Linked DNA regions of Homo sapiens. The protein of the gene in region 1 purifies or fractionates together with the protein of each later gene. This does not show direct contact. Each region holds a gene or a part of one and is shown on either strand. Other genes may lie near its edges.

Region 1 (5,267 bases):
CATATTCCTGTGTCCCTGTCCCTCCCTGGTTGGCCAGTATGTAATGTTCTCATGTTTGAGAGAGCTGCTATAGGTTTGCTGGGTGGGTGTGAGTTGCTTGAGGACAGCAGCTGTGTCATTTGTCTTTGTACTCCTCCTCCTCCACCCCCACCCCAGCCCCCAGGCCTAGCCTAGTGTAGTAGGCTCCAGTAAATGTTCATGGGGCAGATGAATACAGCATGAGTGGATGACATTCCTAATACATAAGCACATCTGCTTCTCAGATCCTATTTCAGTTTTGCTTTTTTTTCAAAGCATAGTCCTCAGGCTTCTTGCATCAACACCAGCGAGCCCAGGAATCCTTGTTAAACCTGCAGACCCACAGCCCCCCAACCAGGCCTGCTGGAGCAGGGGCTTCCCCTCCCTTACACTGTTCGTGGTCTCCCTCCCAGAAAGCCCCCTTTCCCTGTCCTAACCTCAAGGCTAAACCCTCATCCCCCTTTGGGGCCCCACCCAAGCCCTGCCTCCTCTGAGCAGCTCTCCCTGATCCTTCCCCATCCTTGTTCCATCTTATCCCGCCTGAGTTCATCCTGTTAATCCCATCCCCCTGCCAGATCTGGAGCCCTGGGCAAGGACTGCACCTTCCCCTCATGTGCCCTACCGCACAGCCTGGCACAAGGAGGGCGGGTGCAGGTACTCAGAAAATAGCCTGAACATGGCCAAATAGAAAGAACCAGAGCCTCCAGGCCCCCCACCTGCGAGTTAGGGTTGTTTCCGAGTTTTCTTTCTTGGGTTTCATCTGAAATGAGAAGGAAAGGCATTGTTGTGTGGGAGTCCCCGGGAAATCGGTGGCCCCCTCGAGTGAGGAGCCCAGCTCTCAAGACATGTCCTCCTCCTCTTCAGACCTCCCACCCCTTCTACCAGGGGTCAACCCCACCAAAGAAATATGTGGACAAGCCTTCGTTAAAGATCCTTGTTTGTATCTGGAAGACACAGGTTCCCACCCACTAATATGGGTCAGAAGACTTTCTTCAGACTTCCTTCGCAGGGCACCTGTAACCACCTGTTTCCTATCTGCCTCCCACTGCCCATGAGCTCTGTGGGGGCACCAGTCGCTATTGGGCCACCTCTCCAGGGCCTGGCACACATTAGAGGCATGATACCCAATGATTGAGTGAATGACCCAGTGAACAGAAGAACCAAGAATAAACACCAGGACAAAGCAAGACGAGATTTCCCCAATCCACATAGTTTGTACTATTGGGAGAGTGGCAGGGCAGGGAGCAGTAGGAGAGCCTTGCTGCTCTCTGTTCCTCCCCTCCCCTCCTAGACAAGTCTCCTAGGTGAGGCCAGGAACTGATGAAGGCAGGTGTGGACCTCCCTGCAGCCCAGGGCCAGCCCTGCCTGTCCGGTCTTCATGCAGCCCTGGCCTTGCCCACTAGGTGGGGCTGCTCATGCTTACTGGCACCTACCCCCCAGGTTACTAACCTGTTCTCCTCTGCTGAATACAACCTTGTTTGTTCAGGGCCACCCATGGGAATCCAAAGCTCCTCTCTATCCAGGGGACCTTCCTACCTAACCTACGGCTCCTATGTTGTAATGGATGCGGGCTTCCTCCACTTGCCCTCCAGTGGCTCGCAGACCAGGGTGCCCAGGGCTCTCACCCGAAAGGAGATGGTCCTGGGGCTGGAGCGTTTGAGGGAGCTGCTGTAGGTTCGCTGTGTGGGTGAGGACATATCTGCCTCTTCCTCCTTGCTGGGGATTTTCACCTGGATGGAGCAGGGGGAGTGTCACATAAGAGGTCTAGGGCCCATCAAGCCGGGGCAGCCATAAACCCCATGGCTCACCCCAGGAGCTGCAGGAAGAGGGGAGAATGAGACAGCCCTGTGCCTTCTCTCCTGCCTCCTTCATCTGCTGTGGGAGTGGCTCACAGACAAAGTCCCTTGGGGCCAGGGCACCAGGCAGAGCTTTCCAGGGGAGCTTCTAGAAGGATCTGAGGCTCCCCACTAGTCTGCCGGGGTCCTGGAGCCCAGGCCCTGGATGAGGATATGGTGGGGGGCACCAGATGCTCCCTGCCCCACAGCTGGTGCCCCTTTAAGCTCCAGCAGCCTGCCCCATCTCAGCCTCCCTGCTCTGACCATGGCTAGAAGCAGGCAGGGAAAGAAGAGACTTCCAAGGCCAGCCTGCAGGTAGGAGGATGGAGGCAGCCAGGGAACCAGGGACTACCTGGGTGGGACTGGCCGGCAGTGCCAGCCAGGTGGCAGAGTAGAAGGGTGGGAGGGACGGGACACTGCCAACCTGGAGTGTGACGGGTGGGAGGCGGGAGGCCACAGTCGGAGGGTCTGAAGCCCCCTGCTTTGCCAAAGAGGGCAGGTTCTTCCCAGGGAGGGCCCTTCCTCTCTGCTCCTTGGTGGTGGCTGGGCTTCCCCCAGAGGCTGGCGGCTCCTGCGCCAGGGGCTGCTCTGAGGCTGTGGCCCTCTTTGGGGCCGGCTTAGCATCTGCAGTTGGGCTCTTCTCTGAGGCCAGTGCCTTCTCAAAGATGGAAGCTTTCTCAGACACCAGCCTCCTTCCTGAGCCCAGTGCCATCCCTGGGGCCAGCGACTTCTCAGAGACACTGGTTTTTTCTAGAACAGACTTCTTCTCTGAGCTGTTTCTTTTCTCTGACACTGCTATCTTCTCTGATAGAGATGTCTTCTCTGAGGCCAGCACCTTCTCAGAGATGGAGGTTTTATCGGAGACCAGGCTCTTTTCAGGTGCCGTCTTCTTTGGCATGGAGGACTTCTCCAAGACTGGGGACTTTTCTGGAACCCCTTTCTTCCTCTCTTCTGGCTCCCTGCCCACCAAGCTCTCCTCCTCCAGGGCCCAGGGGCCCCGCTGTTCCCGACTCAGTCTCCGGCGAGGTGGGATTTCCAGTTCCTTCTTGGAGACTAGGGGTTTCTGTGTGGCCTGCACAGGGCTCAAGCTGTTCCTCCCCTCCTCTGCCTCCAGCCTCTCCTGGATGGGGGCCTGTGCAGCCTCCACCACCTGCCGCCTCTGCCTCCGCTCCTGCCGTGTTCTGAGGATGCTCTGGATGTCCTCGTCCTCATCTTTGGAGGCTGGGGGCAGTGGCTTGGGCACCTCTGCTTCTTCCACGCTCGGTAGTCTGAATCAGAAGATGGGAGACAGAATCAGAGGATAGAGGTGGAAGATACCCTAAGTATACCTAACCCAATGGAGATGCTGCCAGGGCCACCAAGGAGGAGGTGAGGATGTCAGGCCCTGGCCTCCCCGGCTCACCACCACCTTTATCCACTCGATATATTGCACTTCCAAGGTATCATCTGAGCAAAGCACACTATGCTTTTTAAAAAGCTTATAAATTCCTATGAAGTCCAACGACTCCATGTTCAGACGTAGTCAACAGACTCTGAATAACTGCTTTAATATGTGCCAGAGCCTGCTTGGGGCATTGGGGATCAAAAGGAATAAGCACAGTCTCTGCCCCTTAGATCTTAGATCAAGACTAGAGATGTCCAGGGATTTTGTCAAGGTCACACAGCTGATTCGTGGGGGAGCTGGGAGCAGAACCTAAGTCTTCCGATGCACCATTCCACACTCCTGTCAGTCTTGTGGGTGCAGCCAAGACTAGGTGACAGCCACAGGTACTGGTGCAGCCCAGCTCTGGACATCCTCCAGAGTCTGCTGCCGGGCAAGGCTGGGGGAGGGGAGGACAGGAGAGGAGAGGGTCATCACAGCCCTGTTCTCCCTTCTTGGGGGACCCAAAGAAACAAAAGTAACATGAGAGGATTGTCCATAACCCACAGCACCTGGCCTCCAGCAAAAGGAGATTATTTTCCTTCCTCATCACCCTGCTCTCCATGTGCTTTCAGGCAAGTTAACTTACTGTCGGAGCCTCAGTTTTCACATCTACAAACTGGGCTTGTTAGGAAGCAAAATGAGACTCATGAGGGTGCCCAGGACAGTCCTGGCATGTAGGTGGCATTCAGTAAACCCCAGGCTCTTCCCCCACCTCATAATCCCAAAATCTAGATGGCAAAACTAGCCCCAAGGTTCTTCTCCTCAGAAGTAAATTATAGGCCGGTGCAGCGGCTCACACCTGTAATCCCAGCACTGGGAAGTTGAGGCTGGTGGATCACCTGAGGTCAGGAGTTCAAGATCAGCCTGCCCAACATGGTGAAACCCCATCTCTCCTAAAAATACAAAAATTATCCGGGCATGGTGGCAGGTGCCTTTAATCTCAGCTACTCGGGAGGCTGAGGCAAAATAGCTTGAACCTGGGAGGCGGAGGTTGCAGTGAGCCAAGATTGCGCCACTGCACTCCAGCCGGGGTGACAGAGCAAGACTCCATCTCAAAAAAAAAAAAGGCAGCTGGGCACGGTGGCTCATGCCTGTATTCCCAGCACTTTGGGAGGCCAAGGCAGGTGGATCATGAGGTCAACAGATCGAGACCATCCTGGCCAACATGGTAAAACCCCATTTCTACTAAAAATACAAAAATTAGCTGGCTGTGGTGGTGGGTGCCTGTAGTCCCAGCTACTCAGGAGGCTGAGGCAGAAGAATTGCTTGAACCTAGGAGGCGGAGCTTGCAGTGAGCTGAGATCGCGCCACTGCACTCCAGCCTAGCGACACAGCGAGACTTCGTCTCAAAAAAAAAAAAAAAAAGAAGTAAATTATAGAGGGTCAGGGTTAGAAGAAGGCAGCCTGGATAATGGAAGGAGGCGGGAGCTTGACAGATCTGGATGGACATTCTGGCCCTGCCACTCTTGAGGTACGTGACCTCAGCAAGTCACCTAAGTACTTTTCAACCCTGTTACTCCACCTGTAAAATGGGTTAACAATACCTCTCTCTCAGGGACATTGTGTGGATTACGTGAGCTATGGCCATAAAATGTCCAGCACAGTATTGGCTCATGGATGGTCTACAAATAGTAGCAAGCATTGTTATGAAGAGGATGGAAGCTGGCAGGACTGAGTCTGGGGAAGGTGGGGAACTGGAAATTCATCATCACACCCTTCAGCCTCATTTCCTGGGCCCCAACTCCCTGAGCAGACTGAATATGCTGCACTTAGTCTGAGGCAACCAGTCCATCCCCATCCATCAGGATAGAAACCTGAGCACCTACCTCTCAGAAGCAGAGGCCTGCCGGTCTCCATTCTGGCTGAGCCTGGGAGCCTCATCGTCCGTGGTGGAGCTCAGGTTGCGGTGCCGCCGCCTGCGCTCGCGCTCCTGTTCCTCCTCATCCTCCAGAGTCCTCTGCCGGGCAAGGCTGGGGGAGGGGAGGAGAGGG
Region 2 (3,722 bases), on another chromosome or scaffold:
AGAAGTAGATGAACAGCATGTTCCAAAGTGGGTAGGATATGATTTGGAAAAAAAAAAATGTTTTTAAGTTCTGTGGTCAGATAGGCTTGGGAAATGTTGATGTCTGAACTGCCAGAGTCCTTGTCTTTCCATAAGATATATTAACATTTTAAAGACTCTAAGAAACCCTGCAGTAAATAACTCTGTTTAACCTCGGGTTTTATATACACAACAGTCACCATCTTGTGGGACTCATTTGTGGAACACTCTTTGAAAAACATTGACAAGGTTAGCCCGAGTTTTTCATTTCAGTATTTGAATCCTCTCATCTTATATAATAAAATATAAACAAATTAGTTGAATGGACTTATTAGGATGCCTTTAAGCCAGTATTCTGTTCACTTGACCAATCTACTGTGGATCAGACAGCAAGCTGGGTGTCTGAGATCCTTTAAAGCATCCAATGTGGTTGGGCCATGGGTTGCATCATGATCATCCTACCCTGGAGGCCTGTGTCAGAAGCTCTTGGGCACAGAGCAGAGAGAACCTTCATCTTCCCCAGGGTTGCAGGAAGGGACAGGGTAGCAGGGATGTCTTCCAAGGTGAGACCTGTCATGGATAGCCAATGGGAGGTGTTTGCTCATCATAGGGAGACAACAAGGAGTGAGGCTGCAATAAGAAAGTGTTCACTGTAATCGAGAACAGCAATGATCCTCTCATGGGCTAGAGCACAGCGTGTGGATGGGAGACGGAGCAGGGTGGGTGGCATGTGGTGTGGGGTGAAGCTGAAGGGTGGTTGAGGACCAAGAGGTGAAGAACCACATGAAGGGCTGGGCACAGTGGCTCACGCCTGTAATCCTAACACTTTGGGAGGCCAAGGCAGGAAGGTAACTTGAGCCTAGGAGTTTGAGACCAGCCTAGGCAACATAAGAGAGACCCTGTCTCTTTTAAAAAAAAAAAAAAAAAAAAAGGAGAGAGAGAAAAAAACATTAGCCAGGCATGGTGGCATAAGCCTCTAGTCCCAGCTACTGAGAAGGCTGAGGCAGGAAGATTGCTTGATTCTGGGAGGTCAGAACTGCATTGAGCTATGATAGCACCACTGCATTCCAGCCTGGGTGACAGAGTGAGACCCTGTCTCAAAAATAAAAAAAAATTAAAAACCACATGAAGGAACCTGGATTCTCTTAGAGGAGACAGTGAGGAGCCACTGGACGGACATGGTGCAGGTACAGGAGGAGCAATCCCTCTGGCTGGGTGGGGTCGGATGGGACTGGTAGGAAAGCCAGGCTGCCTGTAAAGAGGCTGTTGCAGTGGTCCAGATGAGAGGTCAGGGGTAGGGCACTGGTAGTGGGGATGGGAGCAAGCACTGACTAGGAAGCAAACCAGCCAGGACTTGGGGGACCACAGGAATGTTGATGGTGAGGGAGAAGCAGCCAGAATAGCACTGAGCTTTATAAGTACAGCAGCTAGAGGGCTGGTGGTCTGCTTAACAAGGCAGGGAGTGCAGGGAGGAGCAGAACTGTAGGAGAAAGAGGTCTTGTATGAGACAATGATTTTGAGCAGCCATGGAGATGAGCAGAGAAGATGGGCTGTGGGTTTGCAGCTTGGGTGAGAGGCGGCAGCCAGGGAGAACTGTCAGAGAGGTGGTGGGAGAGGTGATAAGAGATGGAGAGATGGCCAGCACAGTTCACCTAAACCCTGCTAGGCTGTCTTGAGGGAACAAGAACCCTGAATCTCATGCTTCCCCTCCTATTTTGACTCTTTCCTGAAGATGGACAGTGGTGACCTCGATGAGCTCGAATCGCAGTGCTGCTGGGGTTACAGTCTTTGAGGGCAGGATATATGTGTCAGGCGGCCATGATGGTTTGCAGATCTTCAGCAGTGTGAGTCTGGGCTCCCCCTGGGATAAGGGTACCTACTTCTGTCTTTGAGATTTATTTTAGAAGATCATTATTTGAAAAAACTTCAGCCTTGCCACAGCTGAATAAAGTATCATCTAGTGAGGTTTCAGGCTATCCACTGCACCTTCTGAAATTCTGAACTTCCAGAGAATGAGCCAGTGTACACAAAAGAAGGGCAAAGGGTAGTCACATCTGCAGCCACCACCCTGTTCTACTGTCTGTTGAACACTACATAGAACTTGTGAGATTCCTGCCCAAAGTAAGTTCAGTTATAGACCAAGTGTAAATTTGCAAACAGTTGTATTCTTTTGGATAATTTGTTTGAAATTGTATTTATTCTGTAAAAAAGGCTCAACAGCCATTTACTAGTCATTCCATAGTCAGTCAGTGCTGCAGTGGAGAGCCCTGGAGATTACAGGAGACCCAGCTCTCATACAGGTTCTGTCACTACCTAGCATTGCATCCTTGGGCACATCCTTTTTGTTTCCTTAGATGCAAACAGAAAGGGTTAGGTGAGGTGACCTCTCCCTGTCCCCATACACCAAAGAGCAGGCCTGCAGCAGAGGGAATACTGGGAGAGCTCCTTGTCCCCATACCTCCCACAGGAGTTTGACATCATGGGGGGCTGCTGTGCCCTGCACGGTCACTCCATGGACTGAGCTTTGCCTCTGACTGTCCTGTACCTGTGCCTCTCTCCCCACTGCAGGTGGAACACTACAACCACCACACAGCCACCTGGCACCCTGCAGCTGGCATGCTCAACAAGCGCTGCCGGCACGGAGCCGCCTCCCTGGGGAGCAAGATGTTTGTCTGCGGGGGCTACGATGGCTCTGGCTTCCTCAGCATTGCCGAGATGTACAGCTCTGTGGCAGACCAGTGGTGCCTGATTGTCCCCATGCACACGCGCAGGAGCCGGGTCTCCCTGGTGGCCAGCTGTGGGCGCCTCTACGCTGTTGGGGGCTACGACGGACAGTCAAACCTAAGCTCAGTGGAGATGTATGACCCAGAGACAGACTGCTGGACATTCATGGCCCCCATGGCGTGCCATGAGGGAGGGGTCGGTGTGGGCTGCATCCCTCTCCTCACCATCTAAGGCAGAGGATGGGATGTGGTGGGGCAGGGATCTGGTACAGACATAGGCGCTTCCTTCCAGGAACAGTCCCTCAGGAGAGGCAGTGGACCAGAAGAGATGGCGAAACGTGAGCTCGCCGGAGGTACAGTTTTTCCAGGTGCTTAAGCCCTCCCCCACTGTGCCACCCTTGTGACCTTCAGGCTTGGGTCATCAAGATGCACAGCATGGAACACAAGCTCCTCTGGATCCTGCAGCTGGTGACATGGAACTGTTTTCTGGTCCACATGAACACAGGCTCCATCCAGGCCCAGCTCCTACCCACCGCCTCTCTGTGGGCCAGCTGTTCACAGAAGGCCTTCCATCTGATGCTCCCCATCGCCTGCTTGCTCTCCAGCCGAGTCTGGCCAATTTGCCATGGGGAGGCTGCAGTGTCCAAGCCTGCTGGAAACTGGGATGTAGCTGGGGACGAAAGGACAGACCCAAGCGTTCTCCCTGCCTGAGATGGTGTGGCCACAGCAGTGGAAGGCTGCACACAGGCACATTCCTTCTTCCACAGTGGGGCACCAAGGATTCTGTCCTCATTGCTGGGTAAGCAGGGAGAAGAGAAGTTTTCCCCATGTCTAATTTTGGGATTTCAGTGAGGCCTTTTGATCTGTCCAGGAGAACAGAAGGGAAAAAAAGATACTTGAAAGAAACTGAAGGAAATTTAAACAAAGAAACACTTGAAAGAAACTGGAAAGAAAAATAATTTTTTTATGTGAACAAATTTT
Region 3 (4,536 bases), on another chromosome or scaffold:
CACATACAGAAATAGAAAATTGTGTGTCAAAAATATACACACTTCCACCTACATATACACTTACTGAGATATAGTAGCTGTAATTTTTATAGGCAGCTCAAGAAATCAAGAAAATATATTTATTCCATGATTCCCCCCAAACCAAGCACATAATGTGTAGTATCCCCAAACTATTTTTAGTTGTTATGTACAAATTATGTGGAAAACTAATGAACACATAAAGATGGGAAAGGGGAAGGAACTGAATCATGGTATAATAAGAATAATAAAACATTTTTCTATTTAAAATGCATTTAGTGAACTTGACACATTGCCCTTCATTATTAAACAACTTAAAAGACTTTCCAAGTATTTGTCTACCTATCTTGAATCAATTTCATCACTCAGATTAATTGACTCATATAATATTACCCAAAAGGTAATGTTAAATGACTACAAGCCCACCAGGGCATATGAAAATGTGTGTATAACACACACACACACAAACACACACACACACACACACACAGTCTGCGTATCTAAAAGTTTAGTTATATTTTCCAGTTGAACATAAATATGTAGTATAATAAATAATAAAATATAATTATCCTTTATTAACAGTTTCAAGAAAGGTAGGATCACAAAAATGAAACATAATTGATGGCTGGTAGGTGTAAAAAATATGTAAAATTAGTTTATTCTACTGATTTCATAATTGGATGGCATATTCTACTAACAGAGCAGCAAGGGTGCAAAGATTGAAATTTAAACCCCTAATTAAGCAGTAGTTTGACAGTTCTAATGTCCTGTACCTGCTTGACACCATGACTCAGTAAGCAATCTCAAATGAAAATTAATACCGTCTATAGTATAATCTTAGTTATAAGTAACAGCTGATCGTGTTTAGAAAATGAAAACCTCAAGTGTTCAAAAATGCTTGTGCTCACCAAAAACAACAAAAACTTCTATATAGTTTTACTCATTCAAGAAACAGCAATTTGTAATAATAAAAAATGGTTTGTGGATTCACTTACAACATCTTGATTACTGTCATTTGATCATAACACAACTGCAACCAACCCGGCTGCCATGTCAGCTTCTCTTCAGGGGCTAGGTCTTTAGTCATAAATCAATGAAATGACTAATTCAATGACTAATGCTTGCAGCCATTCCAGTTTTTGCATCTCACAAAATGTCAATATAGCTACTCAATAACACAATAGACTTATCTTTCAAAATGCTTCCTTCTTTTCTAGGGTTGAAAAATAACACATTACCATTTACATTTAGGGTGAACTTCAGTAACTAAAGTGTTCAATACTTCTGAAATGGTGACCTGCTAAAATAACAACAGTTTTAGTCTCCTCTTGTGGCCAAAGTCACAAACCTCTCCTCTCCTCTTTCTTGATGGTTTAAAATAGTTTTCCAGATCTAAAAGACCCATGAAAGTATTTATTACTGTTTCCTGCATCAGTCTTATTTGCTATAGTAACATTACATGTTAATCTTAAAAAACAAAAACTTTTTCTTTTGCTAAAGAAGCAACTAATAATGCAAATGGAGCTTAGATGTAAACATTACCAAAAAACAAGATGCTAACACAATTAAAAGGATTTAGTAGTTAAAATGGATTTTAACTATTTACATCTGCTTTCAGTGTTATAAATGATGAAAACCTAGTGTTCATATCCCTCATAATAAAAATTTATTCTGCACTTTAATACAAAGGCTATGTTGCATAAACAGAGAGGATTTAAAGCTGTAGCAGAGTGGCTGAATGAAAGGAAAATGGCAATCTTTCTGGCTCCAGTAGATGCCATTCCCTATCACACAATATTTCCCACTCATAAATATATGACAAATACTTCCTCAATCATTTTTTACGAGCAGGGATGCACAGGGGGTAGTCAATGGCTAGCTTGAGGGAAAATAGGAACAGCAGGCGGCAGAAACTGTACAGAAAATGGCTATGTGGTAAATTCTCTTCTGGAACATCATTCAGTTACCCAGTCTTTGATCTTTCAGCTACAATTACACTAACTTCCACAAGATCTGGATCCCTCCCAACCCTCCCCCCAAGACATACACACACCAACCCCAAGCCAGATCATTAGTTATACATAAAACCTATTAAGATTTGGTTTTATAAAATAGGATCATTCATACCTCTACATTATTATAAATTAAAATTTGCTATTTAGACAAGGGTTTACTTTCAATTGGCTATAACCATGTCATCATCACAACTGGTCTCACAAAAAACATGGGGTGTCTGGCGACAGCTAAATCACAGACTGGCGTCTCCTAAGCAGTCTGTCTACCATTAGGGTCTGGGAAATGGTATTTACTATACAATTAGAGCCAGGGAGTTCTACCTGTAATCATCCAAATACAGGTGTGAGAAGTCCCTTTGGGCAAGGAAACTGACTCATCCCTTTTCATGTAAACTTTGATGTCTGTATTGTTTCACAGAGCCTCAGGAAACCTTACCATTCATACCACAATGAGAAGATTTATTAACTGAGGTCAAGTAATAAATTTTAAAATTCATTCCTAAAGGTAACAATTTTTAACACATTAATCATCAAATTTATAAGAATTTGAAAGGCGACAGAACTGATTATTTTAAAGTTAATTACCTGATGGAGGATACTGACCAGCTGAATGAAATCTTTATGTTAAATTTATGCTTTTTAGAACATTACCAATAAAGAGGCTAAATTCATCTTCCTATCAGGAACACAAAATGTCTTATAGTAATATCAACAGGGCATTTTTAGTTGCAGTAATTTCACAGAATTTATTCTAATGATTTATTGGAGTTAACCATCTGACATTAATTATTGTTTTGGCTTCCAGTCTATGAATGTTTATTTTTCAGTTTAAAGCCTTCTCACTCTTTGATATCATATGGAAATGAGAATTTTTAATGGAAAATTGAAACCATGTGCATCTAAGTACTTAATGAAGTACAGGGAGAAACAGACAATATAGTTTAGGAGAATTCAGATATTTTGCTTTGGATAGTTTTGATTTGTTTGTATGACTCAATAGTATAAAATACTTAAGAGTCCAGTGAGGCAAGTCAAAGTGAGTGGTATGCCAAATGTGGACATGCCCACAGGTACATGAACATATAATTTTCTGAAGTTATCAGTGATAGTAACAAATCTTGTACATTTTGGTTACATGCCAAAAATGACAATCAATACATGAATGCATAGTTTTTACCTCGATGTACTTTTAAAGCATTTGAAACAGGTACTGGTCTTTCCCCACACACAGTCTTTTTTTTTTTTTTTTTAAAGCATTCAATCTGGATTTTAAAATTCATGCCCAGCTACAACCCCAGGTGGGTATTTTAAAGTCACTTATAATATCAACACAGCTAGAAATTCCTAGTGTAAGAAGTTTTATTGTTGTGACTACATTTATTCTCATTTTGCAATGGAAATAAACGATAATGTCTAATAAACTTACATTTGATAAGTAAATGTATATAATTCAATATTGCTTATTTAATTCAGTTTTTCTTAAGTTCTCTAAGTCAATTAGAAGACTCATCTGTGAAGGTAAATACCAAGCACAGCTTTCTCATCCATTTTAAACTTTTTAATAAGGAGAAAAATATTAAAATTAAACATTGCCGTTAAGTACATATATGTGGGTGTGTGTTTGTGTGTGTACAGAGATGATGCATCTGGGTATATCTGGTGAGGAAAAACTTACCATTTGTTTTTCTTTCTAATGTAGTCTTTTTCAGAAAGATTAACCAAGTAGACCATTGGTTTTGAAGTCAAAAATAAGTGTTTATTCAACACTTCAATCTAAAGTGGGAGATGGAGAAAGAATCCCTTTTAAAAGTTTAGTAAATATGGAGTAAATCACTGAAGAATTTGAAAGTAAACATTCCTTAAAACAAGTAGGCATTTTCATTTTTATAATTCTTCTTTCCAAAAGATTAGTGGTTATGAAATATCATGAGTGGGGGAAAAGAAAAAAATAACAAGCCCAGGAATAAGCAATCACTGACAGAAATAAAAATTTAGATATAATGGTAAGTGTAAAATAACAACAACTCTAATTTGTTCCCTAGCAAATGAAAGCAAAGGCAGTAATAGATGGCATGATATTTACAACTTACCTCTTTGTCATTCCAATCATGATAGAAGCGAACAGGTTTCTTTTGATCTATAACCCAGGATTTTACTTTGCACATTATATCCTACACATGATTGAGAAAAAGGTAAATATATATGAATAACTAAACATTTAGATACTAAATATTAAAAAGTTTTCAAATTTTCAAAATAAAAATAGATTGTTTTAATGAAAGGGGGCTAGGTCACACAAATAATTATTTTCAATATCTCATTTAAAAACCAATTACTAATAAAACATTGTGGCATTAAATTTTTAATGTATAAAATGGACAATATTAGCAAAAATTAGTAACAGCCTGAAAAATGTCAAGACAATTCAATTACATCAAAGACTAATACAAGAGTTACTACCATTTCAATATTACCTAGTGATGCCATATAGAAGACAAACATG

Evidence for each region. Proteins that work in one complex are often made in the same cells at the same time.
Region 2: the proteins of LAD1 (region 1) and KLHL18 purify together in Homo sapiens (affinity purification with mass spectrometry; one large-scale study listed by BioGRID and IntAct). This does not show direct contact.
Region 3: the proteins of LAD1 (region 1) and OLA1 fractionate together in Homo sapiens (co-fractionation; one large-scale study listed by BioGRID). This does not show direct contact.

The regions. Positions count from the first base shown.
Region 1 is NC_000001.11:201,384,058-201,389,324, forward strand, and holds part of LAD1 (ladinin-1), read right to left. Parts: intron 5,247-5,267; coding exon 5,103-5,246; intron 3,122-5,102; coding exon 2,278-3,121; intron 1,749-2,277; coding exon 1,644-1,748; intron 779-1,643; coding exon 735-778; intron 1-734. UniProt on the Homo sapiens protein: Anchoring filament protein which is a component of the basement membrane zone.
Region 2 is NC_000003.12:47,340,969-47,344,690, forward strand, and holds part of KLHL18 (kelch-like protein 18), read left to right. Parts: intron 1-1,750; coding exon 1,751-1,862; intron 1,863-2,586; coding exon 2,587-2,973; 3' UTR 2,974-3,722. UniProt on the Homo sapiens protein: Substrate-specific adapter of a BCR (BTB-CUL3-RBX1) E3 ubiquitin-protein ligase complex required for mitotic progression and cytokinesis.
Region 3 is NC_000002.12:174,119,472-174,124,007, forward strand, and holds part of OLA1 (obg-like ATPase 1), read right to left. Parts: intron 4,205-4,536; coding exon 4,124-4,204; intron 3,807-4,123; coding exon 3,709-3,806; intron 1-3,708. UniProt on the Homo sapiens protein: Hydrolyzes ATP, and can also hydrolyze GTP with lower efficiency. Has lower affinity for GTP.